7 linked regions of the Homo sapiens genome follow. The protein of the gene in region 5 purifies or fractionates together with the protein of the main gene of each other region. This does not show direct contact. Each region holds a gene or a part of one and is shown on either strand. Other genes may lie near its edges. The genes, in order: PDCD11, GRWD1, RBM28, DDX24, IFI16, GLYR1 and NOC2L.

Region 1 (3,647 bases), on a different chromosome or scaffold from region 5:
ATATCAGAAGGGGATTTTTAAAAAACTGTTATCTTCTTGGCCAGGGGAAAGGACCACAAGGCAATCTGGGGTGTGGACAGACCCAGTAGACAATGGAAGCCCCAGCCAGCAGGGCCAGGTGACAGTGAAGCTCACCAGTGGGCTCCTTTATGGTACTCTATGCAGTTAACATGTATCTAGCTGCATAGGGACACCCAGCGCAGCAGTGCACCACTGGGAAGTGGCCTCCAGTGCAGCCTCTGGCCTTATTTTATATATTTAAATTTTTGATAAAGTTTTTCTTACTAAAAGGACTAGCCTGGTGTCTGTGTGATTGAATGGGCATGCCACAGCAGGCTGGTGGTCATAGGGCCAGGCCCAAATCCTATGCCGTGTTAGGGAAGGGGACAGGACTAAAATGGCCCACAGGGGTGGCAGGGAGGGTGCAGTGAGTACCAGGGGTTCAACACAGGGGAAGGCTCTGGGGCTGATGATCTCTTTGCAGTTGGGTTCTATTATCTGATTTGGTGTGGGGAAGAGATGAAGCCTGGCCTTTCTCAGAAGGAAACAGTCTGAAATTTCACGAGTCAGAAGATTCTGCGCTCAGTGGGCAGGCCAGAACTAGCTCTCGTAACCTAGTGCTCATGTCCAAGAAGCAGGCCAGCCCCAGCTTCTCCTTCCTCCCATCCCTGCCCGCCACCCGCCCCACCTCTAGAACCTTTGGATGCTCTCCCTTGGCCCTGTCCGGCTTCCTGGCATATGACTCAGTCATTTCCCATGGAAAAGCTCTCAGGACACTTAAAGCTCTGCCAGAGAAAACGTTTAATTCCCTCATGACCAAGACAAAAAAGAACTGGCTTCAACAACTAGCTGGGTCTGTGCTGGCCTCCAAGACCTTGAATAGCCCAGATATGGAGAGGTTAGGTAATGTGGCCATAGTGGGCGTGGGATGAGACATCATCAGTTCACGCCAACACCCGTGGCTTTCCTCAGCAGCCCAGGTTTCTCCATTTCCCCCTCTGGGCTCTGAATTTGTCCTCCTGTCCCAGACTCATAGCCTCCCCTAAAGGGCAGAAGGTACCAGTGAGGCTGAGGCTGAAGGAACACCCAGAGACTCCAAGATCGGAGGGGAGGGCCCACTCCCTGGAGCCTACTGACCCCCTCCAGCTGGACTGACAGCCTGCCAGGGACAAAGCAGGACCCTGACCACAGGACCCTCGGGAATAGCCCCTCTACTCTTGCTCCCCAGGGAACTCCCCTGGAAGAGGGACCCTCAGCATTTCTGGGAGTCCAGGGGCCTGCTGCCCACAATCCCCAGGTAGCCTCAGATAAGGAAAAAGATAACAAGTTGGTACTGAAAATAAAGCAAGCGAAGAGGGATTTAAAAAATCTCAACTTCCTTTTCATCCTGACAGGATTTCCCCAAGCGTGCTGCAGAAAAAGCAGCATTTAAATAGAGTCCTGAGGTAACAGTTTTCCGAGTGCCCAGGCACTCGAGGCGGGGCCGGGCTGGCCCATTGTTGACAGTGTCCCACAGAGCCAGCCTGCCACTAGTCCTCTAGCACTGAGCTCTTGGCCTCCACATACTCCAGGGCCTTGGCCTTGACTGCCTGCACATCCTTCTCAGTGCCATGCTGCTTCTCGTAGTCCAGGTAGCGCTTGAAGAAGAACTTCATTCTCTTGGGGGCCAAGCTCAGATGAATGACCCGCTCAAAGATGTCCCTGTTGAGGAAAAGCAGAGTGGCATTTGCCTGTCAGTCCCAGGTCACGTGCTTCCTGCCTAGCACTCACCCACTTGCTCTCAGCCCTGGAACCAGGACCCTCTCCCATCCAGGACTCCCACTTCTACCATTATCTTTATTAATCCATGATGAACTCCCATGATGCCTTGGGGAGAGGCACTACCACCCTCATCTTCCAGATGAGCAGATGGACACCCAGAGATGGTAAGGGACTTCCCTGCCTAAAGCCACACAGTGATCAAGACAAAGCTACTGGGATGGGGGACACAACAGTGAGAAACATACATAGTGAAGGGCTTGGGTGAGGCACCTGTTCTTTTTGGACCTCAGTCTACTCATCTCTAAACCCTCCCTGTCTTGTGGAGACGCTGGGGTCAAAAGCAAGAGAATGCCTGTGAAAGTAGTCTACAATGAGAGTCAGGAACAGTGTTAATTATGAGAGAAACTCGAGTCTCTTGACAAGGCTACCTCCTACCAATGGTTTCAGACACAGACCAGATGCTGGCCTTTGAGGCAGAAAGAGGAGTTGAAGTGAATGTCACTGGGCCTGGGGCATCACATCTAGCTGGTTTTCTAGATCAAGTAAGAGAACTGGGATGCTGAGAGCTGCTGTGGGACCAGTGCCTACCACGCCCTCTCCTGAGGAACTCGGCCTTGGCCAGCTGCCCCACTCACCGGACGTCCTTCTGGCTGCCGTGCTTGATGGTCATGTCGATATAGACCGACCAGACATCTGTGCGCTTTGGGTAGGTGCTCAGCGTGTTCTCAAAAATGGCTTTGGCCCGCTCTGCATCCCCCAGCTGAAACTCAAGCTGGGCAAACTTGGCAATGACATCCACATCTGCAGGGAGAGGACTGCTCAGAGACCCAACAAGCAGACAGCCCCCTCACCACAACACAGTGTTCCGCAGGGTCAGCGTGCACCTGACTCCCTGCTCTTGGGTCCCAAGACTCAGGTTGTGACAAGAGGGACAAAGACCCAAAAGGGGTGGGTTTGGGGCCAAATACACAGATGGGCACTGCAGACACACCACTCTCTGGGCACAGAAGAGGTGGGGGATCCCAGGGGCAACAGAACTAGTACTAACTGCGTTTTGTTCCTCCATCTTTTGGAGCCTGACATTTGAAATTTAACATGCACTGTTATGCTGAGGGGCAGAGAATCAACAGGCAGCAAGAGGAAAGCCCTCACAAGGCTCTCCTGACTTAGAAGAAGCAATGCCACAGCCAGTTCCTACTCCCCGATCCTGGAGTGCTCATGGGCTCAGGAGCTGGGAATGAGCACTCACGCTCCTTGCTAGGCAGGCACTCCAGGGCTCGCTGCAGCACGCGGTGACTGGCTGCAGCCTGGCTCCTCCGCAGAAGGAAGGCGCCGTATTTGATCCACACAGCTTTCTCCTGCCGGAAACGCTTCAGCATCCGGTTGTAGAGTTCACCAGCTTCCTGTGGGAAAAGACGAGGCACGCTGAGGAGAGTGTGATACTACAGAGGGGACAAGACAGACAAGCAGCAACACTCACAAGAAGCTAGACCTGGGCTCCCAGACACCAAATCACTCTCAGGGCCTAATGCTAGAGACCTGAGAGGAGCGGGAGGGAGGCTCACAGAAGGGCACCGTGAACAGGCACAACACGACGGAGGGGATTCCCTGCTGATCCGCACCCATGGGAGGGCGGTCCTAGCCTAGAACATGAGAATGACAAGGGGGAGTAGGAGAGACGCCAGAGCGGATGCTGGGCCGGGACGTCCCCTTCTGTCTGTGATGCCCTGCCAGCAGCCCAAGGCAGACACACCAGGGGTCCACTGCCCCTTCACTTCCAAAGCCACTCCTTCCCTCACCTTGACCCCACAGGCCTGAAGAAGAGGTGAGGGAAATGACTTCTTTTACTTGGAAGATAGGGAAGTTGGGGCCCCGATGTTGGGTGG
Region 2 (4,562 bases), on a different chromosome or scaffold from region 5:
AGGCCGGCCAGTCTCAGTCAACAGACCTGAATGAACCCCTTCCAGGGGAGCCCAATTCGACTTCAGTTTCCAAGCAGGAAGCAAGATCAGAGCCAGTGGGACGCCTCAGACGCTGATGGTGCGGAAGATGGTGAAGCCTGACAGCGCCGTGCTGACCAGGAGCCCTGGGCACTGCGGGTGCCAGTGCAGCTCCTTCAGCTCGGTCTCGCCCTGGTGCACGAACAGCAGCTGCTGCGGGAGGTCGGCCAGTCCGGGGTCGGCCTCCACGTCGCCCGCCTCAGGGTCCCGCTCCACTGCCAGGTCCCACTGTGTGATCTGGTGGTCTGCACCCGAGGCTGCAAAGACCCCGCTGTCCTGGGGGTGCCACTCGACGGAGGTCACGGGGGCCACGTGCTGCTTGAAGGTGGCCACTGGGGAACCAGACTAGAGGGAGAGGATGGGAGGAACGGGCTCTGAATGCCTCAGCCTGACTCTGGGGAGGACCCAGGCAGAAGCCCCAACCCTTCTCCAGCCTCAGGGTTCAGCCAGGGCCCCACCCCTTAAGCCCTCACAAGCCCAGAGTCCAGGAAAGGGACACAGGGTAATTCTGGCTGCTAAGAAGGCTGACCAGCCCAGGGGTTGCTGGGAACTGTGATTCACCTGCAAAGAAGCCCCTCCCAGCTCAGGTAGCAAAACCCCCGCCCCTGCTCTTCCCTCTGCCTGCCTGTTTTCTTCCTTGTAAAAGGAGGGCATGGGCTGGGTGCGGTGGCTCACGACTGTAATCTCAGCACCTTGGGAGGCCAAGGCGGGTGGATCACCCGAGGTCAGGAGTTGGAGACCAGCCTGAACAACATGGTGAAACCCCATCTCTACTAAAAATACAAAATTAGCCGGGCTGGTGTCACATGCCTGTAATCCCAGTTACTCAGGAGGCTGAGGCAGGAGAATCGCTTGAACCCAGGAGCGGGAGGTTGCAGTGAGCCGAGATTGCGCCACTGCACTCCAGCCTGGGAAACAAGAGCAAAACTCCATCGCAAAAAAAAAGAAAAAAAAAAAAAAAAAGAAAAAAAGGAGGGCATGGCTCTCCCAGAGCTCTCCCAGCAGATTCTACAAAGGCCTCAAAGGAGGCAGAAACACAATCCCCGGAAGCCGACCCAAAGAAAGACTAAGAATGACAGCACTTTCACTACAGCAAAGGCCCCGCTCAATTGGCGTCTCTCTCATTAGGAGAGGCTGCTCTGAAGTTCCAATGGTCAACAAGCTGGGCCCTGTGTGACCTGGTGGGCCTGGGAGGCTGGAATCCGTCTCCAGCCTCCTCCCCAGGGCTGACGCTATAGAAACGATCAAACTGGAGGAGAAAAAGGATGACATCATGGCAGCCCGGGAAGGCAGAGCCACACAAAGCTGCGGCTTTGTCCAGAGGGATGCCGGACGCTGCAACTTCTCCTGCACAGGGACCCTCCCAGCTCCACAATGTCAACCTCTAGCTTGGCTGTCATGTCACAGCGGCTCCTGTCCTTTCTGTGCCTCAGTCTTCTCCTACAACGAGCAGGCTGGGCCCCGATTCTCAGTTGCATCTAGAAATCTACAACTCTCTGAAGCTCTCAGCACTGGCCGTACAGACACCTGTACTTCTGCCCACAGGCAGATGAGAGTCCTAGTCTCTGCTGCCCCAGCCCCTTCCATCTCTTGTCAGCTGTTCCCCTGGTAGAGTGAGTGACCCCAAGAGTGGAGACCCGCCACCCTTCCTCTTGCTGAGCCTCAGTTTCCTCCTCTGTACCCTGAAGAGGCAGGAGTCTAGTTCTAAGGGCTCTCCAGCTCTGGTTGTGTAAAACTATTCAAGGAGGAAAAATCCTACAAATCCCAGGGGCTGCTGGGAGCAAGCTTCTCTAGCCCCCAGGTGTCCGGCTGGGAAAATACCTTGAACTGCCGAAGGTCCCAGATCTTGAGGGCCCCATCATCCCCGCCACTGAGCAGGAAGGGCTCCCGGCGGCTCCAGCTGATGACATTGACGTCCCCATCATGGGCGGTGGCTGTGGTGAGCATGCAGGCCTTGCTGGGGGCTGCCCGGATGTCCCAGATGCGGATGGAGGCGTCAGCTGAGCAGGAGGCAAACACCTGGGGGAGGCGGAGTCTGAGTGGTCCCAATGCCCCCCAGCCCGCAGTGAAGCCCAAGCGCCAGCGGTGGGCTACTCTCTCTTTCACTGTTCCCCTTACTATGACTTGGCCTGGAAACTAAACCTCCGTCAGGCTCCCAGCCCTCTTTTCCCTCAGACCTAGGATTCTAGGTCCCTGGCCTAGAATCCATCAGAACTAAACGACCAGAACCCCACCCTCCCTCACCGTGTTCTCAGTCGGTGACCACTGCAGGTCCTCCACAGAGCGTGTGTGGCCCACGAATGGCCGCTGGTCCACGTGCCAGGAGCCGCCGTCCGTAGGTGTCCAGAGGTGGATGTTCTTTTGACAGTCACCGGTCAGCAGGCGACCTGGGGAAGGGAGTCAGGAAATGACCTCGCCCCACCTGGCCGCAGCTCGCTCCCCTCCTTGGAGTCTAAGCGCCCGGCCCCTTGTTGCAGACCCTGCTCCCCCGACCTCCCGGGACTCCTGAACACCCCAGGGACTCACCGGTCACCCGGGGGGACCAGTCAAGGGCAAAGCCCTCGCCCATGTGTCCAGCGAAGGAGAAGATGGGCTTCATTTGGGCCTGCTCATCCCGGAGGAAGGCTGCCAGGGCCTGGGGCTCCTCCACCACCTGCAGAAGCCGCCGCAGCGCAAACACCTCCACCTGGCCCTTCTCTGACCACACCCCAGCCACAGGCTCTTCACCCAGCCATGACACCTGCAGAAGAGCGGTGGGGGAAGGGTGATGTGAAGCGAGGGGAGAGGAGGATCAAGGCACTGACCCCACGCTCCCCATATCCCAGAGAACCAGAAGTGCGCTTCCTCAGATCTCCCAGGCCTGGGACTACAGCTCCTTGAAACCTCTGTGGGAAGAAAATCACAACCTGCAAAAACCAGCATGGTAACTGGGACAGCTCTCCACAGGGGGTGGGAGTGGGTGGGGGAGCTGAGGTGGGAGGATAGAGCCCCAGGATGCCTGGGAGTTGAGGCTGCAATTCCCACCAGCCCTTGGGAGGGTGTTCAGGCTCCTGGTCTCGGTAACCCTCTAAATGCTAGAAGGCCACAAGACTCAGTCCTCGGATCTCCTTGCCTCTGTGTTTGTTCACTAGGAGACCCAGTCCAGCCACGAGGTTTCCAATACCCCTAGCCCTGACCTCTCCCCTGGGCTCCAGACTCTTACTGCATTGACCGTTCAAACTTTTTTGTTTTTGAGACAGGGTCCCGCTCTGTTGCCCAGGACGGAGTGCAGTGATGCCATAATGGCTCACTGCAGCCTCAACCTCCTGGGCTCAAGTGATCCTCTCACCTCAGCCTCCCAAGTAGTTGGGACTATGGGTAAGCACCATCACATCTGGCTTTTAAAATTTTTTTGTAGAGACAGGGTCTCACTTTATTGCCCAGGCTGGTCTGGAACTCCTGGTCTCAAGCGATCCTTCTGCATCAGCTTTCCAAAGTGCTGGGATTACAGGCATCAGCCACTGTGCCAGCCTGACCATTCAAACTTGATACAACCAAAGCCAAGCTCCTAATTGCCACCTGCAACTGCTCTCTCTCCACCTCAGGCCCCAAAATTCAGAACTCATTCTTGGTCCTCATGCCCAGCACCTATGCTGACTACAGTAAAAATGCTCACTTCCAGGGCCAGGCGCGGTGGCTCGCACCTGTAATCCCAGCACTTTGGGAGGCCGAGGAGGGCAGACTGCCTGAGGTCAGGAGCGAGACCACCCTGGCCAACATGATGAAACCCCGCCTCTACTAAAAATGCAAAAATTAGTCGGGCGTGCTGGTGGGTGGCTGTAATCCCAGCTACTTAGGAGGCTGAGGCAGGAGAATCGCTTGAACCCAGGAGTCAGAGGTTGCAGTGAGCCGAGATCGCACCATTGCGCTCCGGCCTGGGCGACAAAAGCGAGACTCTGTCTCATCTAAAAAAAAAAGCTCACTTCCAACCCCCTTCTCATGATGTCTATTGCTGTCACACTACTACTGATGTCATCCTTCCCCTGAATACCGTAAGTCTCCCCACAGGATTCTTTCCTCCGACCCTTACCTCTCTGCAATTGATATTTAAGGACAGCAGCCAGAGGGACCACTTTAAAACAGAAGTCAGACCCTGTCTTTCCTCTGCCTGAAACCCTCCAACGTCTCCCAATTAAAAGCTGGAGTCCTTACAGTGGCCGACAAGGCTCTGAACAATGTCTTCTCTGTGCCCGCTCCCCAAATTGTGTCATTCTCCCTTTTGTTCATTCTGCTCCAGACAGACTGGACACTCCCGCTTCACTTGAAACTCTTCAAACATGCCAAGCTCACCCCAGGGCCTTTGAACTTGTGTTTTTCCTTGCCTGCAAATTCTTTTACAGGGTTCACTGCCCCACTACCTGTGAGTATCTATGCAAATGGCATTTTATGACAGAATACTTTCCTAACCACACTGTTTAAAAATAGCACCCCACTCCTGGAGCACC
Region 3 (4,562 bases), on a different chromosome or scaffold from region 5:
ACATGGCAAAACCCTGTCTCTACTAAAAATACAAAAATTAGCCAGGCGTGGTAGCAGGCACCTATAGTCCCAGCTACTCAGGAGGCTGAGGCAGGAGAATCCCTTGAACCTGGGAGGTGGAGGTTGCAGTGAGCCAAGATTGAGCCATTGCACTCCAGCCACGGTGACAAGAGCGAAACAAAGTCTCAAAAAAAATAAATAAATAAAAATAAAAATAGACAAAGGACATGCTAAGTATATGAAAAGATGTTCAAACTCACTCTTAATTAAAGAAAACATAGCACAAGAAATGAGATACTATTTTTCACCAACAGATTGCAAAATCAAAAAGACTGATGGAATCCAATGTGGTAAGGTTATGGGAAAAAGACATTTCCATATACTACTATGACAGTGTAAACTTTCTGGAAATACTGTATAGGACATAGGAAACTTTGAGGAAAAAACATACACATACAATCACACACAAATTATAAAATACACTACATTTTGAATGTGTATATGTGTGTGTATATGTGTGCATTTTGCTTATAAATGTATTAAAATATCTATAGATACACAAGAAACAAATAACCTTGGTTGTCTCTGGGGAAGTTCCCTAAGAAGCTGAGGATCTGGGTATAAGGGAGACTCACTGTTTGTTTTCAAGAACAGACATATAAGCTTATACATACAAAGAAAATATCTGGAAGGATGCACAAGAAACAACAGTGATTACTTCAGGGAATTGTTAGGATTGGTGAGAAACTTCTACTTTGTGTATTACACTCTTCTGTGTTGTGTTTTAACTTTTTATCATTATCATTTATCTGTCCTATAAGTTTTTTAGGTGAAAGAATGGCATGAGACAGCTGACTGTGGGTTGTAGAATACAGGATCTCAGAGTCCCTTCAGTGTAGAAGCTTCTTTGATTCTAAGGTGTATACCATTCTCTCCTCACAGAAAAAGCTTATTTCCTCAGATTTCTTATATGGTCAAACCAACATGTCAGACTTACTGAAATGGAATCAGAATAAAAACAGCTGAAATAAAAATCTCCACCCAGACAAATCAAAGAACCAGTTATTAGCCATTTCTCATTCTGTAATGACCTGCCTTCCTCAATAAACAAGTTGAATTTATTCTCAATAAAGGTAGCAATAAGGATTGGCTAAAGTTTTACAACATGTTCAAAGAGGTCCTTGTTATGGAACGCACTGTGTTCCCCCAAAATTCATACATTGAAGCCCTAACCCCAAATATAATTGTATTTGGAGACAGAGACTTTAGGGAGGTAACTGAGGCTAGCTAAATGAGGTCTTAAGGTTGGGCCCTAATCTGATAGGATTGCTGTGCTTATAAGAAAAGAGAGACCAGAGTTCACTGTTACTTGTTCTCTCTCTCCCCTCGTCAAGCCACAAAGAAAAGGCCATGCAAGCACATAGCGAGAAGGCAGCAGTCTGCAAGCTAGGAAGAGAGCTGCACCCAAAATGAATCAGCTGGCACCTGGGACTTCTAGCCTCTAGAGCTGTGAGAAAATAAGTTTCTGCTGTTTAAGCCACCCAGTTTATGGTATTTTGTTATGTCAGTCCAAACTGACTAAACAGTTCTTTATCCCCATCTCAACTCCAAGGAGTTGTTTAAAATCTAGCTTGATGTTGAGATGGTTATATCATCTGTTTCATCTATATTATCTGTATAAGATGCTGTTTACCTGGTTATTCTATCAAGTTGGACAATCCAGAGAGAGGTAGAACCTCAGCATTAAGCTAGGTTTTCAATTCCCTAAGAATCTTAACCCTCAAACACCACTCCAAAACTCACTTAAAAAACAAAACAAACAAAAAGGAAACAACAAAAAAACCTTTGGAAGAAAGGAGTATAAAGGTTTCCTTTTCAGCATTTAAACATAAATTTGATAGAACACCTTAGAGTCCTATTTAAAAAGAGATCTAAGCAGAACTGATGCTCATTTCCGTAACTTCAGTAACTTTTTTAAAGTCTAAAGACATTTATGAAAATCCAAACAAACCTTTATCCTCTTGCTCCTCAGTGCTGGTATCACTCTGAGCCAGTTCCTCTCCATCATCAATACTATCGCTTTCCTCTAGGTCACTGTCCTCCTCAGAATGATCACTGCTTTTTGCAGGGGCTGGTCTCTTGACTGCTCTGCAATGGCACAGATCAGAACTAAGGAGGTGGGCTGACAGAGGGCCTATTCAATTTCATTACACATGTCAATTCTGCAATGATGCAGGCAGAAAAAGGAGAATTTTTCCTCTCGGAGACAATCTTGAATCTTCCTCTGCTGTCTCAGAACAGGATGAGCTGCTTACCTCTTCTGAATTTGCACAGGCTTGGTCACCTTTGATTCTATATTCTCTTCCTCTTCATCTTCATCATCAAAAACCCCATCTTCTTCATCATCATCATCGTCATCATCATCGTTTTCTTCCTCTTCCATATCCTCTTCCTCTCTGCCCTTCTTTTTAACTGATTCCTGATGTTTAGATTCATGGCTCTTTTCCTCACCTATGGAGGGAGGTAAAGAAAGGAGGAATTCATTTAATATCCAAAACAATGTTATTTTAACAAAAGTAACCAATACTCCAAGTTCTTGGTTTCATCGGTTTTACAGAATTTCGTATATTTTTCTTACTGCATATAACAGGAGAAAGTATAAAGAAAAGAAAAAGCAAAAACAGAAATAAACAAAACTCTCAACACCCAGATTCCTTTAGAGTTTGTCCCATTCATCAGTCTGAAGGTTCATCTGGCCCAGACTGAAAGAAGTGGCAACTGAGCCTCTCCAAGCAGTCTACCATTCGTACATCATAGCCAGCAAAATGCTCACTAGGGGGCAAAGCCAAGCCATGAACTTTAATCTCAGTGCGTTCTATTCTCTGAGACCCTGGTGGCTTACCAGCCAATTGTTTTCTAAATAAACCTCAAGTTTTAAGTTTCTCTATTCTTAATGTTCCATCACTCCTATTATGCACAGCCTGGAAACAACAGCAAGTAAAGGGGACAGTGAACTCAGGCTCACTCACAGCCACTCCCAGGAAGGGGCTTAGACTCAAAAGAGCCTAGGTTTTGGGACCAGAGCACCAAATGGTACAATATGAATTGACAAACAGACCTGGACTCACTTCTGAGCCAGCAGGAATTCAGAGTTTTCCCTGAAAGCCCAGTCTCATTCTTTTGGTTAATCTTCCACAATAGTCTTACTCTGATAAGCAGGTTCTCTTACACTTTTTTTTTGAGACGAAGTCTCGTTTTGTTGCCCAGGCTGGAGTGCAGTGGGGTGATCTCGGCTCACTGCAACCTCTGCCTCCCAGGTTCAAGAACCTGCCTCAGCCTCCCAAGCAGGTGGGATGACAGGCGCCCACCACCAAGCCCAGCTAATTTTTGTATTTTTAGTAGAGATGGGGTTTTGCATGTTGGCCAGGCTGGTCTCAAACTCCTGACTGCAAGCAATCCACCCAAAGTGCTGGAATTACAGGCAAGAGCCACTGCACCCAGCCTTTTTCTTACACTTTTATCATGAACACAGGAGTTGTTTCAATACTCTCACCCAGGTTATACAACGCCCCTACTCACCCAACACTACCACATCTTACCTATAGCAGAAACAGACTGTGTATCTTTATATTTATCCTTTGCCACGGCCCAATCCACAGCCACTGTCCGGCCTGTCAAGCAGAAAAGTGGCATCAGAAAGGCTCTCCTTTTAAAAACCCTACCTCTGTAAATGACCCCTAGTCATCACAGACAATAATGGAACCAGTGGAGACAAAGAAACTGCCAATTCAGGGAATGCTGGTCTTAAAATAAAGCTCCTAGTCACTGCCTACTCCTTTTAACCCTTAACCTTTTTATCAATGAACAGAAATTTTGCCTTTCTACATAGCCACCACACCTGGGATAAGATGGAGTAAAAAAATAAAGAATTAGAACTATGTTTCCAGTTAGACTATCAGGAATCAAAACAGGCATTCTGGAATCATCTGCACCCTACCTGGAAGCTAGGACATCTCTACGGCAATAACTTCTTTTTTTTTTTTTTGAGACACAGTCTCGCTCTGTCGCCCAGGCTGGAGTGCAGTGGTGCCATCTCAGTTCACTGCAACCTCCGCCTCCAGGTTCAAGCGATTCTCCTGCCTCAGCCTCTTGAGTAGCTGGGATTACAAGCATGCACCACCACACCTGGCTAATTTTTGTATTTTCAGTAGAGACGGGGTTTCGCCATGTTGACCAGGCTGGTCTTGAACTCCTGACCTCAGGTGATCCACCTGCCTCCTCGGCCTCCCAAAGTGCTAGGATTACAGGTGTGAGCCACCGCACCTGGCCGGCAATAACTTCTTTAGGCACAGTACTTGATAAGTCAATATATAAATCACAGTCAGTTTAATAAATAGCCCACAGATGCTGAACAGTGATATAACCAAGGAGGAATCTAGATACCAACCTGCATCTATCAGCAATTATCTCAGGGACATTTTTCACTAGGGATTTAAAAGGACACTCTCACCAGATAAAAGAAAGAATACTGGCAAGGGTTCTTTCAAGTTTAACCCCAAGAT
Region 4 (3,500 bases), on a different chromosome or scaffold from region 5:
ATTTTATCTTTTTTGTTGTCTTATTAGCTATAATTCTTAACGTCTTTTTAGTGATTGCTTTGGGGTTTATAGTATATATCTTTTATTATAGTTTACCCTCAAGTAATTTACTACTTCGCATACAATGTAAGAACCTTACAAGAGTATTTTCCATTTCTCCCCTCCTTTGTGCTTTTTGTTGTATACTTCATATGTGTTAGAGATTCTAGAATACATTTTTATTATATTTGCTTTAAACAATTATTTTTAAAGATGTTTAAATAAGAAAAATAAGGGGTTTTGTTTTTTTGTTTGTTTTTAGAGACAGTATCTCCCTCTGTCACCCATGCTGGAGTGCAGTGGCACGATCATGGCTCACTGCAGCCTCAAACTCCCATGCTCAAGCAATCCTCCTGCCTCAGCCTCCCAAGTTTCGAAGACTACAGGAGTGTGCCACCATGCCTGGCAAATTTTTTTAAAGATGGGAGTCTCACTATGTTGCCCAGGCTGGTCTTGATCCTCCCGCCTAGACCTCCCCAAGTGTTGGGATTACAGGCATGAGCCACCATGCCTGGCCATAAAAAGAAGTTTTTAAATATTTACCTACGTAGTTACTGTTTCGGTTGCTCTTTATTTCTTTGGGTACATCCAGATTTTCATTTTATGTTATCTTTGCTATTGCATGAAAGACTAATATTTCTGATAGCTTACATTTGCTGCTGGTGAATTATTTCAGCTTTTATATGCCTAAAGTCTTTATTTCACATTTTGTTTTGAGTGGGTGTAGGGTTATAGATTGTCAGGGTTTTATTTTTAGGCATTCAAATAAAAAATATTGCTACACTGTCTTCTGGCTTTTCATTGTTTCTGATAAGTCTGCTGTTCTTCTTATCAAAAGTTTCATGTGTCTGTTTTTGCTCTCTTTTTTCCTTATAGTATCTTATTTTTGTGTGTGTGGTTATTTTTTACTGAGAGCTGCTTATTTCCTTTGAAAATTGTGAAAATTTTTGGAGATGTATGGTAATGGTTTCTCCCTTGAGAAAGCATTTATTGGCTTCTGCCTAGGGCATTATCACTTTGGAACTTCTTTAAATTCTCAGCCTGAGATGTTTTGTTTTGACCACCCAGATGATTTGGACTCTGTGTACATTCAAAGGCCAGTTTGAAAATGTTCAGGCATAGACAAAAGTTTTATATTTACATTTTCTGAAAACTTAAGAAAATTTTCTTTTACTCCTTTCTCACCAAAGAAAAGTCTTGGGAAAGTATTGTATGGATTACTGTTTCCTGCTCCTCACAGAAACAACACATACACCCAAAACTTGCCCTTTCTCTCTTTATTGTTTCATTTCTTGGACATTTGTAATTCGTTACTGGTGACCTAAGACCTCAGTGCTAGCCTGCCATACTTTTCCTCGGGTTCTAATTTACATGTGCCTTCTGGTTCCTTCTGGGGAAATCTGTGTAGAGTGGAGGAGCTTTGGGTCGGTCAGGGTGGCACTTGGCTACCTTATTCTATGCAAAAGAATGAATTCCAGACTAAAGTATGTTCATCTGTTGATTCACACTGTTTTTACTTTGTTTTGTTTTTTTACTTTTAAGGAAGTGGGAAAACTCTTGCCTTTGCCATCCCAATGATTCATGCGGTGTTGCAGTGGCAGAAGAGGAATGCTGCCCCTCCTCCAAGTAACACCGAAGCACCACCTGGAGAGACCAGAACTGAGGCCGGAGCTGAGACTAGATCACCAGGCAAGGCTGAAGCTGAGTCTGATGCATTGCCTGACGATACTGTAATTGAGAGTGAAGCACTGCCCAGTGATATTGCAGCCGAGGCCAGAGCCAAGACTGGAGGCACTGTCTCAGACCAGGCGTTGCTCTTTGGTGACGATGATGCTGGTGAAGGGCCTTCTTCCCTGATCAGGGAGAAACCTGTTCCCAAACAGAATGAGAATGAGGAGGAAAATCTTGATAAAGAGCAGACTGGAAATCTAAAACAGGAGTTGGATGACAAAAGCGCCACCTGTAAGGCATATCCAAAGCGTCCTCTGCTTGGACTGGTTCTGACTCCCACTCGAGAGCTGGCCGTCCAGGTCAAACAGCACATTGATGCTGTGGCCAGGTTTACAGGTGAGGTTTAGTTCCATTTAATAAATATTTTCTAGGTAAATCCCAAATGCTCGTTGGTAAAGATGAATGAGCTGTGGCTCCTGCCCTCTAGGGTAAGCCACTCTCATCTATAAGCCAGACAATTAAGCCCTACAGAAAATTGATATAGTGACATTTTTTCAGTTCCCTCAAGGATAATACATGGTTGGTGCCATTGTGGATGCATAGGAAATTTATTGGATACAGTAGATGCTCAGGGCAGGGATTAGCAAACTGTCTGGTTTTATAAATAAAGTTTTGCCGGAACACACCCACACCCATTTGGTTTTATATTGTCTGTGGTTGGTTTTGTACTACAAAGGTGAAGTTGAGTAGAGTTAATAGTTGTGACAGAGACCATCTGGCCTATGAGGTCAGTAATGTTCACTAGTGACCCTTTCAGAAAAAGTTGGCTGATCCCTGCTCTAAGCTATTAGGATTTAATTCTCTCAGGGAATTCACTCTGGGAAGGGCTTCACTCTGGGAATCTTAATTTTATAATGAAAGCAGCAATTAATTACCAAGTTGTTACTATTGCTAAGCCCTTTACCCACATGATACTATGAGAATTTCTGCACCAGAGACGAAAACAACAGGGCATTAGTGGACCTTTCAGAATAATTCTAACTGAGGGAATGGAAGGGCTTCCTAGGAGAGGTGTAGCACAGCTGCAGGTCATATTCCTCCCAGCATTATGGTGCCCCAGTGCTCCGTTTTCCCAGAGCTTTGGAGGTAAGCATACCTGGGTTCAAATTCAGCCCCTTTGGTGTGGTTGGAGGGGAGGGAGTAGAAAAGAAATGAGGCTGAAGAAGTAGAGCTCAGATCACAGAAGACTTGGTAAGCCCTCTAGGAGTGGCGTCAACAGTCTGGCCAGGCCTGCTCTTTTAGCAATGCTCTAGGGCATTACACTGTGCTGATGTCTGTCTCTGCTAATCTGGGGTGCCTGTGTCAGCCATGTAAGAAAATGATCACCCAGATTGAATAAGTGTCCCTTATGTTTTCTGTCCCATAGGAATTAAAACTGCTATTTTGGTTGGTGGAATGTCCACGCAGAAACAGCAGAGGATGCTGAACCGTCGTCCTGAGATTGTGGTTGCTACTCCAGGCCGGCTGTGGGAATTAATTAAAGAAAAGCATTATCATTTGAGGAACCTTCGGCAGCTCAGGTAATAGATGGCACTTCTCTTTTCCCCCTCACTGCCTTTTCTGAAATGAGCCTTAGGTGACATGGTGTGGGCAATGCCTTCTTCTCATCGCAGAATGCTATGGTGTGGTATCATCCAGACCCTGGCCTTTAGAAAGCCAAGAGTGCATGAGGGAGATTAGTTGAGGGCCTGATGGTGGTGGTGGTAGTGGGGTGTGTACGTGTGTGTGTG
Region 5 (4,562 bases):
TTTTTTTTTTTTGAGACGGAGTCTCTGTCGCCCAGGTTGGAGCGCAGTGGCGCGATCTCGGCTCACTGCAACCTTCGCCTCCTGGGTTCAGGCGATTCTCCTGCCTCAGCTTCCCAAGTAGCTGGGACTACAGGCGTGTGCCATCACGCCTGGCTAAATTTTTTGTATTTTTAGTAGAGACGGGGTTTCACTATGTTAGCCAGGATGGTCTTGGTCTCCTGACCTCGTGATCTGCCCACCTCGGCCTCCCAAAGTGCTGGGATTACAGGCATGAGCCATTGCGCATGGCCTATATACACACTCTTAAAGAGATGATTCTTACAAATCCAGTTCTAGGATGATGAGTAATGAGCAAAAAGCTGGAATGTTTGAGCTCAAGGACTTGGTTTCAGGAGGGGGTACAAATATTGGAAGAGACTCAGTAAATGCAGAAAGTAGAAAAAGTAATTAGAGAGTTACCAGAAGCTTGCTTTTTCTTACAGATTCCTCATAAGTCACTGAATAAATAGTTGTAGCAGATATCCATTCTTTTTGCATGGGGCCAGAGACCCAGAAAGGCTATCAGAGATTTCAGCTTCCTCTGTATCAAGGTGCTTTGGGAAGCAAAGCTGCCCTGTAGGTGAAAGCAGTAGAAATTTGGAAGAAAACTCATTGTTCTAGAACTGTCATAGAAATATCTCAGATATGAAAGACTTAAACAAAAAGGATATTGAGGGACGGCTTTCTGCAAAGATGTGGCCTAAGATATGTGCATATCTGTACTAGGAGTTGCTGTTGTGCATCTTGTTTAACTCTCTTAGAAGGGACTTCAGCCTATATGTGGTTGTTATTAATTACATTCTCAGGAACAGAATATTAATTTTCTGTTACAGAAAACAGTAAATCAGAAGACCACAATCTACGAAATTCAGGATGATAGAGGAAAAATGGATGTAGTGGGGACAGGACAATGTCACAATATCCCCTGTGAAGAAGGAGATAAGCTCCAACTTTTCTGCTTTCGACTTAGAAAAAAGAACCAGATGTCAAAACTGATTTCAGAAATGCATAGTTTTATCCAGGTAAGAATTAAATAGGCAAATATTAGTTTTCCAAAGTGGAAATGATTTGCTTTAAGTTTTGGCAAAAACAAGTTTGTAGGTTTTTTTTACAGAGTTCAGCGGGAGGCATGAGAAAACAGATATTCTCCTTGTATTCACATTTACTTTTTTTAATTTTTTTTTTCTGGATGGAATGATGTGATAGGATACAATTTTAAAAAGAAAGAAATCTGAACTTTATCAAAAAAATTGAACTCTGAATTTTATGTAAACTTTTAAGTGATTGTAGGGTTGGGATTTAAAATTACATGTTCTCCATTTGTGAATTAGAAAACGTCGTGTGTGTGTGTGTGTGTGTGTGTGATACTTTCTAGTTTGTAACATTACAATACACATATGTGTGTATTTAGTCCATAAAAATACCTAATTTGAAACTTAAAATTATTTGCAGTGATCAAAATTATGTCCCACTGACAAAGTTTTATACAGAGGAAGCTCTCCAATTTGTTAATTTGAATTCAAATATTCACGTGTTAAGTTTCCTTACAGTACATGATTTTACGCTGTTGCCATTTTGAATGTTGTAAATTATTTTTTATTTCAGTAGGTTTTTGGGAAACAGGTGGTGCTTCGTTATAGGAATAAGTTCTTTAGTGGTGATTTCTGACTTTTTGATGCACCCATCGTCCAAGCAGCGTACACTGTACCCAGTGTGTATGTAGCATTTTATCCCTCACCCCCCTCCCACTCTTTCCCCTGAGTCCCCAAAGTCCATTGTATCATTCTTATGCCTTTGTGTCCTCATAGCTTACCTCCCACTTATGAGTGAGAACATACAATGTTTGGTTTTCCTCTCCTGAGTTACTTCACTTAGAATAATGGTCTCCAATTCCATCCGGGTTGCTGTGAATGCCGTTATTTTGTTCCTTTTTATGGATGAGTAATAGTATTCCACGGTGTATACATACCCCATTTCTTTATCCATTTGTTTACTGATGGGCATCTGGGCTGGTTCCATATTTTTGCAGTTGTGAATTGTGCTGCTGTAAACATGCATGTGCAATGATCTTTTTTTGTATACTGACTTCTTTTCCTCTGGGTAGATACCCAGTAGTGGGATTGCTGGATCAAATGGTAGATCTGCTTTTTAGTTCTTTAAGGAATCTATACACTGTTTACTATAGTAGTTCTACTAGTTTACATTCCCACCAGCGGTGTAGAAGTGTTCCTTTTCACCACATCGATGCCAGCGTCTGTTTTTTAAAATTTTTTGATTATGGCCATTCTTGCACGAGTAATGTGGCATCATTTTGTGGTTTTGATTTGCATTTCCCTGATCATTAGTGATGTTGAGCGTTTTTCCTTATGCTTGTTGGCCATTTACATATCTTCTTTTGAGAATTGTCTATTCATGTCCTTAGCCCTTAGCCCTTTTTTTTTTTTTTTTTTTTTTTTTTTTTTTTTTTTTTTTTTGAGACAGAGTCTTGCTCTTTTGCCCAGGCGGGAGTGCAGTGGCGCTATCTCGGCTTACTGCAAGCTCCGCCTCCCGGGTTCACGCCATTCTCCTGCCTCAGCCTCCAGAGTAGCTGGGACTACAGGCGCCCGCCACCGCCCCCGGCTAAATTTTTTGTATTTTTAGTAGAGACGGGGTTTCACCGTGTTAGCCAGGTTGGTCTCGATTTCCTGACCTCGTGATCCGCCCGCCTCGGCCTCCCAAAGTGCTGGGATTACAGGCGTGAGCCACCGTGCCCGGCCCTTAGCCCACTTTTTGATGGGATTATTTGTATGTGCAATGCTTGTTCCCTGGTGCCATAAATAAATAGCATTTGAATATCAATTTAATTTTTTCAGCAAGGCCATTTTTATACTTTTTGTAGAAAGGGTACACTCGCCAGCAGTTTTGCCACAAGAGTATACGGAACAAAGGAGACAGGCTCATTTATAATCTGACGCGGCCACCCTCCTGCTGCGTTCGGTTTCCATTGGCTGGGACGGGACCTCACCTTCTGTATTTGTCCCGACTGGCTAGCACTTAGAACTTTTTAAAAGAGGCAAAGGCATAGGAGAACAAAGGAAGGAGGAAGTAACTTGTGGAATATTGAGAAAGGTAAAAACACCTTTAAATAAGGAAGAGGAACAGGCTATGACCTAATGCTTGCTTGGATCAGTATAAGCATGTTAGGGCAAATATTTAGGCTAAATTGTGGGAGCTAAGAACATAAAGTATATTGATTTTTTATTATGGCTAGCAGATATTTAAGAATGTTTGTACAGGTCTTTGAATAAATTTTGCTTTTAAGAGAAGTTACTATTTATTTCTAATTAGATGGGGAGGAAAGTTTTTGAAGAGGAACCTCTACTTTTTACAATTTCCCCTCATTTCATAATTCTTCTTTAAACTTGTTTAATATGTTTTGACTTAATTTTTTTTTGTCCTTTTAAGAGAAGTAATTTTTCAGAATAGGGTGGAGGAGAATTAGGAGTTAACTCTGCAAGAGTGGCAGAGATAAGTTTTTGTATAAAATTTCAAAGGCAGGGAATAATATAACAGCCTACAAGAATAAGTACACCAATAACAAGAGCAAACGAGGTGAGAATTGAAGTTAAATTTTTTTTTTATCCGCTGAACCAATGTTTTATTATTTTAGAAAAAGAGTTATTTATTTTAGAATTGTTGGCAAGTTTATCGGATAGGGCTGTTAATCCTTGTAGCACTTTTGTTATAGTTCTATCAGGGGCAGTATTAGGAATAAAGGTATAACATTGAGTTTTAATTATGACACAAACTTCTTTTTTTGCTAATATTATATTTAAAGCTATTTTATTTTTCTAGACCATCTGGCTGGTAGGTCCTAATTGCTTAGCTTTCTCTTTGATGGCGTCCTCAGTGTAATTTATGAATCGTTGCTGATTATAGTAGATATAGTTTATTTAGTCTACTTAAAAAAAATTTATAGTTACTTAACAGAGCAACATGGATTTAAACTCTGCAGCTATTTGATTTTGTGCTTTAAACTTATTTGGCACTTCTCATAGGACCTTAATAGCATTTATGTAAACCTAACGTTTAAAGGACTCATGAGGAGTTTCCTTTGGCCTGCAGTGTCTTGTTTTTACCTTTTTTTTTTTAGGTTGGTGAAATGCCAGGGTGCAGGGGATAGCCAGTTGGATTAGAGCATAAGTACTGCTCCAATTATTTGGCAGAGTGTCTAGTAAAAGTCCTCTACAATATCACCATACATTTGCTTGGGGATGGCTAAGCGTGGACTGATGGGCAAGCTCTTGGAAAGGCTTGAGCTCCTTGCATCCTTTTATGCTTCTAAGGAACACCAAATTTTACTCTTGCCGTGAGAGGCACAAAGTAAACTTGGCATTCAGAGGTGGAAGCAGGCTTGCCCTCGGGGGCGGACCCCCGGGGTATTGAGTTTCAGGAAATAACAGATAGAGAGCTCAGCATGATGGATTATCCTAAACTGTGGGATTTTGCAAGAGAGCCACCATATGTCCATTTCTGGTCAATGA
Region 6 (4,562 bases), on a different chromosome or scaffold from region 5:
TTTATATTAAATTTTTTTTTTTCTTTGAGACGGAGTCTCACTCTGTCGCCCAGGCTGGAGTGCAGTGGCGCAATCTCGGCTCACTGCAACCTCTGCCTCCTGGGTTCACGTGATTCTCCTGCCTCATCCTCCCGAGTAGTTGGAATTACAGGAGCGTGCCACCACACTCGGGTAATTTTTGTATTTTTAGTAGAGACGGGGTTTCTCCATGTTGGTCAGGCTGGTCTCGAACTCCCGACCTGAGGTGAACCACCTGCCTCGGCCTCCCAAAGTGCTGGGATTACAGGTGTGAGCCACTGCACCCAGCAAAAAAAATTTTAATAGAGATGGGGTTTCCCTATGTTGCCCAGGCTGGTCTAGAACTCCTGGGCTCAGGGGATCCTCCTGCACTGGCCTCCCAAAGTGCTAGGATTACAGGTGTGAGCTACCATGCCTGGCCAATTTTTTAGTTTTTGTAGAGCTAGTCTTCAACTCCTAAGCTCAAGCAATCTGCTCACCTCAGCCTCCGAAAATGCTGGGATTACAGGCATAAGCCACTGCACCTGGCCAACTTTGTCTTTTTTTTTTTTTTTTTTTTAAGGGAAAGGCTCTTACTATGCTTCTCAGCCTGGTCTTGAACTCCTGGGCTCATGTGATCTTCCTGCCTCAGCCTCCCAAAGTGCTATGATTGCAGGTATGAGACACCACAACTGGCCTTCCCAGCTTCTCTTGAGAAAAAACAGACAATTTGGCAGAAGCTGGCTAGAACCCTGTGGACAGAGCATGACCTCCCCAGACTCCCTGACCATGGCCAGCCCTGCTGCTCTGAGCACCAAGGCAGGTCAGCTGGGGTGCCTGGCACCCGTGCCACTGCTTCTTAGGTCCAGTCAGCTACAGTTGCTTCCATTACCTGCCTGGGCTCGCTGGTGTCTGAATTTTTGAGCCTTGATCCAAGGTCTAATGTTCCATCATGGCCTCGTCACCCAACTGTTGCTGCCAGCCATCTGGCTTCTGTTCTCTTTATCCTGCTGTTGACAATCCTACCGCGTTCCTGACACAGTCCCCTTCACTTTGAAATTCTTCTCTGTGGCCTTGTAAGACCGGCCCCAAATCTTGTCAGCAAGAAGGCGAGAGAGGCACTCTCACTGCTTTATCTCATCTTGCTAGCTCCTCCTGCTCCTTCCTGCCCCAAGCACGGCATTCTTGTGGCAATGCAGGCCTCCGCGCTTCCCTCTTCTCCCTCTCTTCCTGAAACAAACCCATTCCACTGCCCGGACTCAACTACCCTTTTACAAATTCACCTCCCAAATCTACATTTCTAGTCCTGAGGTCACACCAAGCTCCCAGGCTGTCTAGGCCTTGCCTCAAGTTCTTGACATTCCAAACAGAACTGGTACTCTTTCTCCACAAGCCACCTCTACATCCCCAGTCCTCTACTTTTAAGAAAGTGATGACCACTTTCCCAGGAATGAAGATGGAAATCCTCTTTTCCTTTTTCTCATTCATCCTCTATATAACCAATTATGGAATCTTAAGAACTCTTCCTCTGAAGTGCCTCTCACCTCTTTGCTTGCAACATTTGCAATTACCCCCTTATGAATGCACGCCTAGACTTACCTCCTAATTGGCTCTGAGACTTTCCCCTCTGCACTCGGTGACTACTGGTGCACACACGGGAGGCACACACTGCCACTGGCTCAGTCACCTTCCCGGGCCCCCACTGACTCCAAGACGCTTTAGTACCACGCTGCTTCAGTAGACCTTCAGGCCCTCCACGATCCAGGGACAAGCTTCCTTTTTCTCGGCTTTCCTCACTATCCTCTCCCTGTTCGAGAGTATCTCCACCAGCACCGAGCCTCACACGGGCTGTGCCCTCCATCTTTGGAATGCCTACCCTTCTTTCTTGCTAAGCCCCTCCCAGGGCCAGCCCTTGTGCACCGGCTCAAGTGGACTGCTCTCCTGCCTCGCGCTCCTACTTTACACCTGCATCCAGGCCGTGTCTCTCACCTGGTCTATGGGATTCTTTATTTTTTAATTTTTTAAATAAGATTCGGGGTCTCACTCCATCACCCAGGCTAGAATGCAGTGGTGCAATCGGCTCAATGCAACTTTGAGCTCCAAGGCTCAAGCCATCTTCCTGACTCAGCCTCCTGAGTTGCTGGGATAAAGCATGAGCCACCGCACCTGCCCTGCAGGATTCTTGAGCACAGAATTCTGCTCCCACTCCATGAGCAGAGTATAGATAAGCATACTACATAAGCATACTGTAGAGCTTAACTCTACCTTGTACTAAAAGGACATCACTAATCCCGGAAGCTGCAGAGAGAAAACAAACCTTCTCATCCTTTGGGGGCCGACCCCGCTTCCGGGGACTTTGCTCTTGGGCTCTTTTCAGAGGGGATTTGGAGCCTCTCTCTGAAGAGCCTGAAGACACCCTCTTCTTTCCTTCTCCCATGTTCTTCTTCACCTTCCCTTCAGACAGGCTAAGTTTGCGCTTCTCATCACCTGAGTTTGGCCTACTTCTCTCCTCACTGGAATTACGTCGATTCTTGTCATCAGAAGAATTGTGGGATGACGTCTGAAAGTTTAATAATAATAATGATAACTACCACCACAGCTGCTGCCGCCATCGCCACCATCATTTACAGGTGCCATGTGCTGCTACAGGCACTCTGTGTGGTCTCCTCACAATGACCCTAGAAATAGATTCTGCTGTCGTCCCAGACATTGGGAGAAGCAGATTTAAAAAATATATATATCAAAAGTCACTTTCCCTATGTCCCAAAACTAGAAGAAAGGATTTAAATCTAGGCAGTATATGTATTTCAGAGGCTATGCTCCTAATCTGTGTGCTATGAAAGGAAGAAATGGCCTGTGCTAGACTCAAATGCTGAGATATTTCTCCTGGGTCCAAGCAATTTTCCTAAAAGCAACAACCTACTCCAGAAAGGTTAGCTGCATGGAGTTTCAAACTGATAAGCAAAACGCTGACACCTTAGAACTGAAGTAGCTTTCTCCAGTAGCATTTCAGAAGAACAAAGGTTTGCGTTTGGGTGACATTTAATCTGTTAGTTGCTATGCAAAAATCACCAGTCTGGCATTGGTAGAAAGTGAACATTGTGTCTCTCACCTGGTCTTTCCCTTTGGCTCTCCTGAGGAACTCTTCGACAGCATCTACCGCTTGCTGGAATCGTTTACCCTTGTTAATTTTTATCATTTCCTCTTTATGAGCATGATATGGCTTCAGCTGTTCCACTTTGATCCAGGCACTAGCAGAAAACAAACACAAAAAGGGTGTGAACCATATAGCATATGCCCTAAAGTATCAACAACCTCACTATGGCACGGTGTAAATATCCATTTGGTTTAACTGGACTTTGCAATAGGCCTTGCCATTTCTTTCAAAACATGCTATCAACCATCTCAGAGTCTTATGTCTAAAGTATATTTTCTTGAAACAAGTCAAGCAGAACAACCATCACCACCACTGCAGCAACCACAAATCAAGTTCCTCCAGTGAAAGCACTGTGTTGCAGATTATTTATTTCCACAATCGTCTATCAGCCTCCAATGCCCAACCACATATACGCTGCCACTTGCTCAGGGCAGAAAGAAATCTGGAGACCCTTTCCCATTCTCACCAGGCAGCACAAATGGCCACACACAGATCCCTGGGAATCAGGGTACCTGGAAATGTGATAGATGATAGCAGCATTACTATGCAGGAAAATGCCTGCTGCCTGTCAACAATGGGAACCAGATTTATGATCTGTTGATCCACAGAGAGTCAGGGATGTTACAGAGCTGAAGAAATGCAACATCTTCTAAAATTTGTGGTTCCTATGGATATTCACAGCCACTGAGCCTATATTTGTTCATAAATGATGGTAACCATGGCTACTAAACCACACAAAACACGGAACACATGGTTTGGAATAAGGGCAGCAGTTACAAAAGGAGGCATTTAAAAACAAGATGGCATGCTGTTTTATGATGTCTCAAAAAAAAAAAAAAATAGAAACAAGATGCTTGAGATTAAAGGTAGAAGAACATACACCTCCGATATGTAATTTTTAATTTCAACCATCAATGTGTAACACATGAAAGTGAAAGTAGTCAGCTGTCAATTCTGGGGTTTCTGATCTGTCACACTAACCTGAACAAATCTGCTGCAGCTGGCTTTCTATGGCTTCCCTGAATGGCATGCAGCTTATAGAATCCAAGCACAAAATAATTTTATAGGCTTTACAAGGTATCAGTTAGTTTACATGTTTTAGCCTGTGATACAGGTTTCACAGCATAACCTTCAGAAAAAGTAGGTCAGGTTAAGGATACAGAAACCCAGCTATCTCACAAGCTTCAGGTTGTTTTCTTCATAGAAAGCTAGAGAATATTCACTAACAGCAAGTGTTAACCTTTGCACATAAAAATAATGTTACTAACCCTCCACCAGCTACCTGGACTTTGAGTGTGCTGCTGGTAGTTGTGATAATGGGGTCTGTGCAAAAACACAGACCTGGGATCATCGGCCTGCAGATGTCAGGCAGCGAACCACTATCAGGCATGCCACCATGGCTAAGTGA
Region 7 (3,839 bases), about 160 Mb from region 5:
TTCTCCTCACGGGCCCCTGGTGCCCACATACTGGCCTGGGTGACGAGGTCAGTCCAGCCACTCCACCTGCCCGGAGCCTCCAGCCCATCAGGCCTGAGGGGGCATGGCCTCCCCAACCTAGTGCAGCCTGGGGCTTCCCCTCCCTGGAAACGCCTGGTTCTGGCCAGTTCTCCAACACCTACCCCCTCTCCAAGTCGAATCATCCGGGCACGGCCCTGGCCGCCTGGCACTGTTTCCAAACCCTCGCCCTGGTCTCAAGTCATAGTGCGCTAGATCTGAAACCCAGGAAGTCACAACACACCCCCAGGTCCCCTCGCCGAGCCGCACCCGCTCTTTGCCACTGATCTCCAGCTGGATCTCCCGGTCACGCAGCTTGCGCCAGTGGCTGTAGTACAAGGTCAGGGGTGTCCCCTCTTCCCGGGTCAGCTTCTCCCAGGCTTCCTGGGGGGTTGGGGGAGTTCAGGGTCATGCCTCACCCTGGGCAAACCCCCACATGTAGCTGGGGCTATACCCTGGCAGGTGCCCTCAGGTGGCACTACCCCCAGGGCCCACTAACCACTGCCTGCTGCTCAGAGACGCCGAAGGAAACCCTCTGGCGGCGGCTGCAGATGTATGCCGAGTTCTCCTGAACCTTCCCAAGCAGCTGCTGCACCTGCCGGCAGTAGTTGGCCACCTTGCACTCCCGGAGGAACGACTTCAGCTGCGGAAGGGAGGGGTCAGCCACTGAAGCCCAGGACCGCTCCATGTGCACAGCTGGCCCAGGTCCTGTGCAAAACCACGCGTGGTGGCCACGGGGATACCCCAGGAGGGGACATGGATCCCATCTCAGGGCTCAAGTGCATAGCTGTTGCAGCTGGGATGGCAGAGGCAGAATCAGCCCACCCTCTGGGCCAACCCTGCCCACTACTCACCTCTGGAAATAAAGTTTTATGCCAGGCGTGGTGGCTCTCGCCTGTAATCCCAGCACTTTGGGAGGCTGAGGCGGGTGGATCACCTGAGGTCAGGAGTTCAAGACCAGCCTGGCCAACGTGGCAAAACCCCGTCTCTACTAAAATACCAAAATTAGCTGGGTGTGGTGGTGGGCGCCTGTAAACCCAGCTCCTTGGGAGGCTGAGGCTGGAGAATCGCTTGAGCCCAGGAGATGGAGATTGCAGTGAGCCGAGATCGCACCATTGCACTCCAGCCTGGGCAACACAGCGAGACTCCATCTCAAACAATACTACTACTACTAATAAAATACAGTCTCGCTGACGTGCAGCCACACGTGTGCATTGCATGGTTCTGCAGTTGCCTGTGCAGCTGAACATCCGTAGGAAGCCACGTTTACCATTTGGCCCCTCACCAAAAACATTTTCTGACCCCTACCCCAGACCCCGACCCTGGGCCCTTGAGTCCAGAAGCAGAGATGCCCCAATGCCAGGTATCACCACCCAAGAGGACATGGGAGGAACAGAGGCTGTGGCCCCTGCTGTGAGTGCCCCCCAGAAAGGGGGTCCCGGCTCTGTGCATGTGACATGTGTGGCCGTGTGTGAGTACACACACATGCACACACCTCTATCTGGATAAGCCTCTGACCAATTGTGGCTCATGTGAGCAGATCCCTCCTCCCCACACTGCACAGACCTATAGTCGGCACATCTGATTCCAGCCACCAGGGCCAGACAGCAGGGCCCCCACCCCTTCCACTAGGCACAGGCCTCCCTGAGGCTGGAAACATCACGGCTGAGAGCAAACAGACCTCCCGTGGGGGCCCAGAAGGACCTTCTGAGGATAAGGAGAACCCCCTCCTCCACCCCACTCCTGCCTAAGATGAGGCTGACGTGGGGTATTTAGCGGGGCAGGCTGGGCCTTCCTATGAGGCTGATGTGGGGTATTTGGCGGGGCAGGCCAGGCCTTCCTGCCACCTGAGAAGCCACTCCACCCACTCCCCACACCCGGGATGGCCTGGGGAAGTGTGCGATCAGCGTACCAGCCTGAGCCAGGGTCGGCATGCTCAGTCCCAACCCCGAAGCAAAGATCAGCCTTGTGGTTCCCACCTGGGGAGGAGGCTGTTGTGCTCCCAGGGTCCTCAGCCCACTGCCCAGGCCTGCCCCCAAACCTCCTGAATGGCTTAGAACCCCTCATCAGCCCCTCCAAGGGGGCCTCACGGGGCGCGTTGCCAGCAGTCAGGTTCCACCCCAGTCCCAGGTACCCGGGACAAGGGCACCTCCTACCAGCCTGGGGCAGCCAAGCCCGTTATAAGACAGTCTGAGTCGGCCACGAGCCGGTGTGGGCAGGACACACACCTGCAGGACCACAGGCAGCACCAGCTCCGGGAAGCCGATGCAGTGTGCCTGGCTGTGCAGGTACTCCAGGGTGAGGTCGTACAGCTGCTCCACCAGGCCGTCCTGAAGAGCAGGAGAGAGGGCCGAGTGCATCAGGGAGAGGCTGGGGCTGGGCACTCAGGCCCCTTCCCCTCAGGCTGTCAGGGCAGCGCCATCTCCAGGGCACGGACTGCAAGGAAGGGGCTCCTGGGCCCCAGCCCTGGGAGACCATGAAGGTCCATGCTTGAACTTGGAGGATGCCAGCCCCCTCCCATCCACCTCAGCACCCCCAACCCCACCCTGGGAACTGCCCAGGCCCCTCCCCAGGAGGCCAGCCTCACCCGGTACGCCTTCTCCTGCAGGTTGACATTGGACAGCTTCAGGATCACGGAGAAGTTGATGGGCTTGGAGCTCATGCGCCCTGGCTTCCTGTTGAAGTCGACCTGCTGGAACATCTGCCCCAAGGGCCGTGTCAGGCTCTCTCGGCCCCATGCCTGGTCACCCTGGCTTCACCCTGGCTGCACCCTGGTCCCCCTGGTCCCTTTGGCCCTGCACCTGGCTGCACCCTGGTCACCCTGGTCCTCAGGCTTCAGCACGAGGAGACCCAACCCGAAACAAGAGATAAGCAGCTAGGCACGGTCCCAGCCCCATGGCCCCACACAGCCTGGCGTGTCCCCGAGTGGGGCTCTGATCAGCAGGGAAGGATCAGGAACACGGGCCCTCTCCCAAAATCCTGGGAAGCACTAAGGACCCACGTCTGGAGACCTAGAGGTCCCTGCCACACAGAGTACCAGGACAGCCCCCATTCCTGACAACATGGCACTGAGGCCCATCCTGGCCCTCAGCACAGCAATGCCACATGGGGCTCCGTCCCGAGCAACCAGAAGACGCAGCAGCAACAGCAAAGAGTGCCAGACACAGGACGGGACAGATGGAGGTCACGGGAGGCCTGGGGGGCCCCTCCCACACCCTCCACAGAAGCCACAGGCCATGCACCTCCGTAGGACATGCCAGGAGGAGCAGAGAAAGAGTCAGCCTGGCCTCTCAGTCTTGTGACCCCTCCCCAACCACTAGGAGCCCTCAGGCTGTGAACCAGAGAGATCCAGGGTACATGCTGGGGCACCAGAGGACAGAAGCAGATTATGGGGGGCCCAAGGGTGGAGGCCCCAGCAAGACACCCCACTCAGCAGGGGTGGCTGCCAGACAGCTGAGCTCAGGTCCAGATGGGAAAACGCCCTGGTACTGATGAACCTCTGGGAGGACACTGCCCTTCTCTAGCCTGGGCCAAAAGTATGGGCAGGCGACTGGCTTCCTGTCCAGGCACCGGGGAAGGGCAGGCACGGCCTACAGCTGAGGGCTTTGTTTTAGCTTTTAGGGTTTGCTTTTTCCGGAGAGGAGAGGCCTGCATCCCTGCGTGAGAGGGGCCTACAGGGTGCGGCTGCAGTGAACCAGGGCAGTGCACAAGTGAAGAAACAGACACTGCAAGAGAGTAAGAAAGCACGTAGCCAAGGAGATTGGACAAGGGAAACAGACACA

Evidence for each region.
Region 1: the proteins of IFI16 (region 5) and PDCD11 purify together in Homo sapiens (affinity purification with mass spectrometry; 3 studies listed by BioGRID and IntAct, with this or other methods). This does not show direct contact.
Region 2: the proteins of IFI16 (region 5) and GRWD1 purify together in Homo sapiens (affinity purification with mass spectrometry, with the first as the bait; 3 studies listed by BioGRID). This does not show direct contact.
Region 3: the proteins of IFI16 (region 5) and RBM28 purify together in Homo sapiens (affinity purification with mass spectrometry; 3 studies listed by BioGRID and IntAct, with this or other methods). This does not show direct contact.
Region 4: the proteins of IFI16 (region 5) and DDX24 purify together in Homo sapiens (affinity purification with mass spectrometry; 3 studies listed by BioGRID and IntAct, with this or other methods). This does not show direct contact.
Region 6: the proteins of IFI16 (region 5) and GLYR1 purify together in Homo sapiens (affinity purification with mass spectrometry, with the first as the bait; 3 studies listed by BioGRID). This does not show direct contact.
Region 7: the proteins of IFI16 (region 5) and NOC2L purify together in Homo sapiens (affinity purification with mass spectrometry; 3 studies listed by BioGRID and IntAct, with this or other methods). This does not show direct contact.

What each region holds. Positions count from the first base shown.
Region 1 is NC_000010.11:103,443,432-103,447,078, reverse strand, and holds the end of PDCD11 (protein RRP5 homolog), read right to left. Parts: intron 3,165-3,647; coding exon 3,011-3,164; intron 2,563-3,010; coding exon 2,397-2,562; intron 1,702-2,396; coding exon 1,530-1,701; 3' UTR 785-1,529; downstream 1-784. UniProt on the Homo sapiens protein: Essential for the generation of mature 18S rRNA, specifically necessary for cleavages at sites A0, 1 and 2 of the 47S precursor. Directly interacts with U3 snoRNA. Involved in the biogenesis of rRNA.
Region 2 is NC_000019.10:48,448,569-48,453,130, reverse strand, and holds part of GRWD1 (glutamate-rich WD repeat-containing protein 1), read right to left. Parts: intron 2,819-4,562; coding exon 2,605-2,818; intron 2,466-2,604; coding exon 2,323-2,465; intron 2,098-2,322; coding exon 1,900-2,097; intron 424-1,899; coding exon 106-423; 3' UTR 1-105. UniProt on the Homo sapiens protein: Histone binding-protein that regulates chromatin dynamics and minichromosome maintenance (MCM) loading at replication origins, possibly by promoting chromatin openness.
Region 3 is NC_000007.14:128,333,532-128,338,093, forward strand, and holds part of RBM28 (RNA-binding protein 28), read right to left. Parts: intron 3,672-4,562; coding exon 3,600-3,671; intron 2,512-3,599; coding exon 2,316-2,511; intron 2,149-2,315; coding exon 2,012-2,148; intron 1-2,011. UniProt on the Homo sapiens protein: Nucleolar component of the spliceosomal ribonucleoprotein complexes.
Region 4 is NC_000014.9:94,060,703-94,064,202, reverse strand, and holds part of DDX24 (ATP-dependent RNA helicase DDX24), read left to right. Parts: intron 1-1,581; coding exon 1,582-2,106; intron 2,107-3,136; coding exon 3,137-3,290; intron 3,291-3,500. UniProt on the Homo sapiens protein: ATP-dependent RNA helicase that plays a role in various aspects of RNA metabolism including pre-mRNA splicing and is thereby involved in different biological processes such as cell cycle regulation or innate immunity.
Region 5 is NC_000001.11:159,019,469-159,024,030, forward strand, and holds part of IFI16 (gamma-interferon-inducible protein 16), read left to right. Parts: intron 1-872; coding exon 873-1,061; intron 1,062-4,562.
Region 6 is NC_000016.10:4,829,665-4,834,226, forward strand, and holds part of GLYR1 (cytokine-like nuclear factor N-PAC), read right to left. Parts: intron 3,249-4,562; coding exon 3,110-3,248; intron 2,558-3,109; coding exon 2,315-2,557; intron 1-2,314. UniProt on the Homo sapiens protein: Cytokine-like nuclear factor with chromatin gene reader activity involved in chromatin modification and regulation of gene expression. Acts as a nucleosome-destabilizing factor that is recruited to genes during transcriptional activation.
Region 7 is NC_000001.11:945,846-949,684, forward strand, and holds part of NOC2L (nucleolar complex protein 2 homolog), read right to left. Parts: intron 2,759-3,839; coding exon 2,645-2,758; intron 2,388-2,644; coding exon 2,286-2,387; intron 701-2,285; coding exon 557-700; intron 442-556; coding exon 328-441; intron 1-327.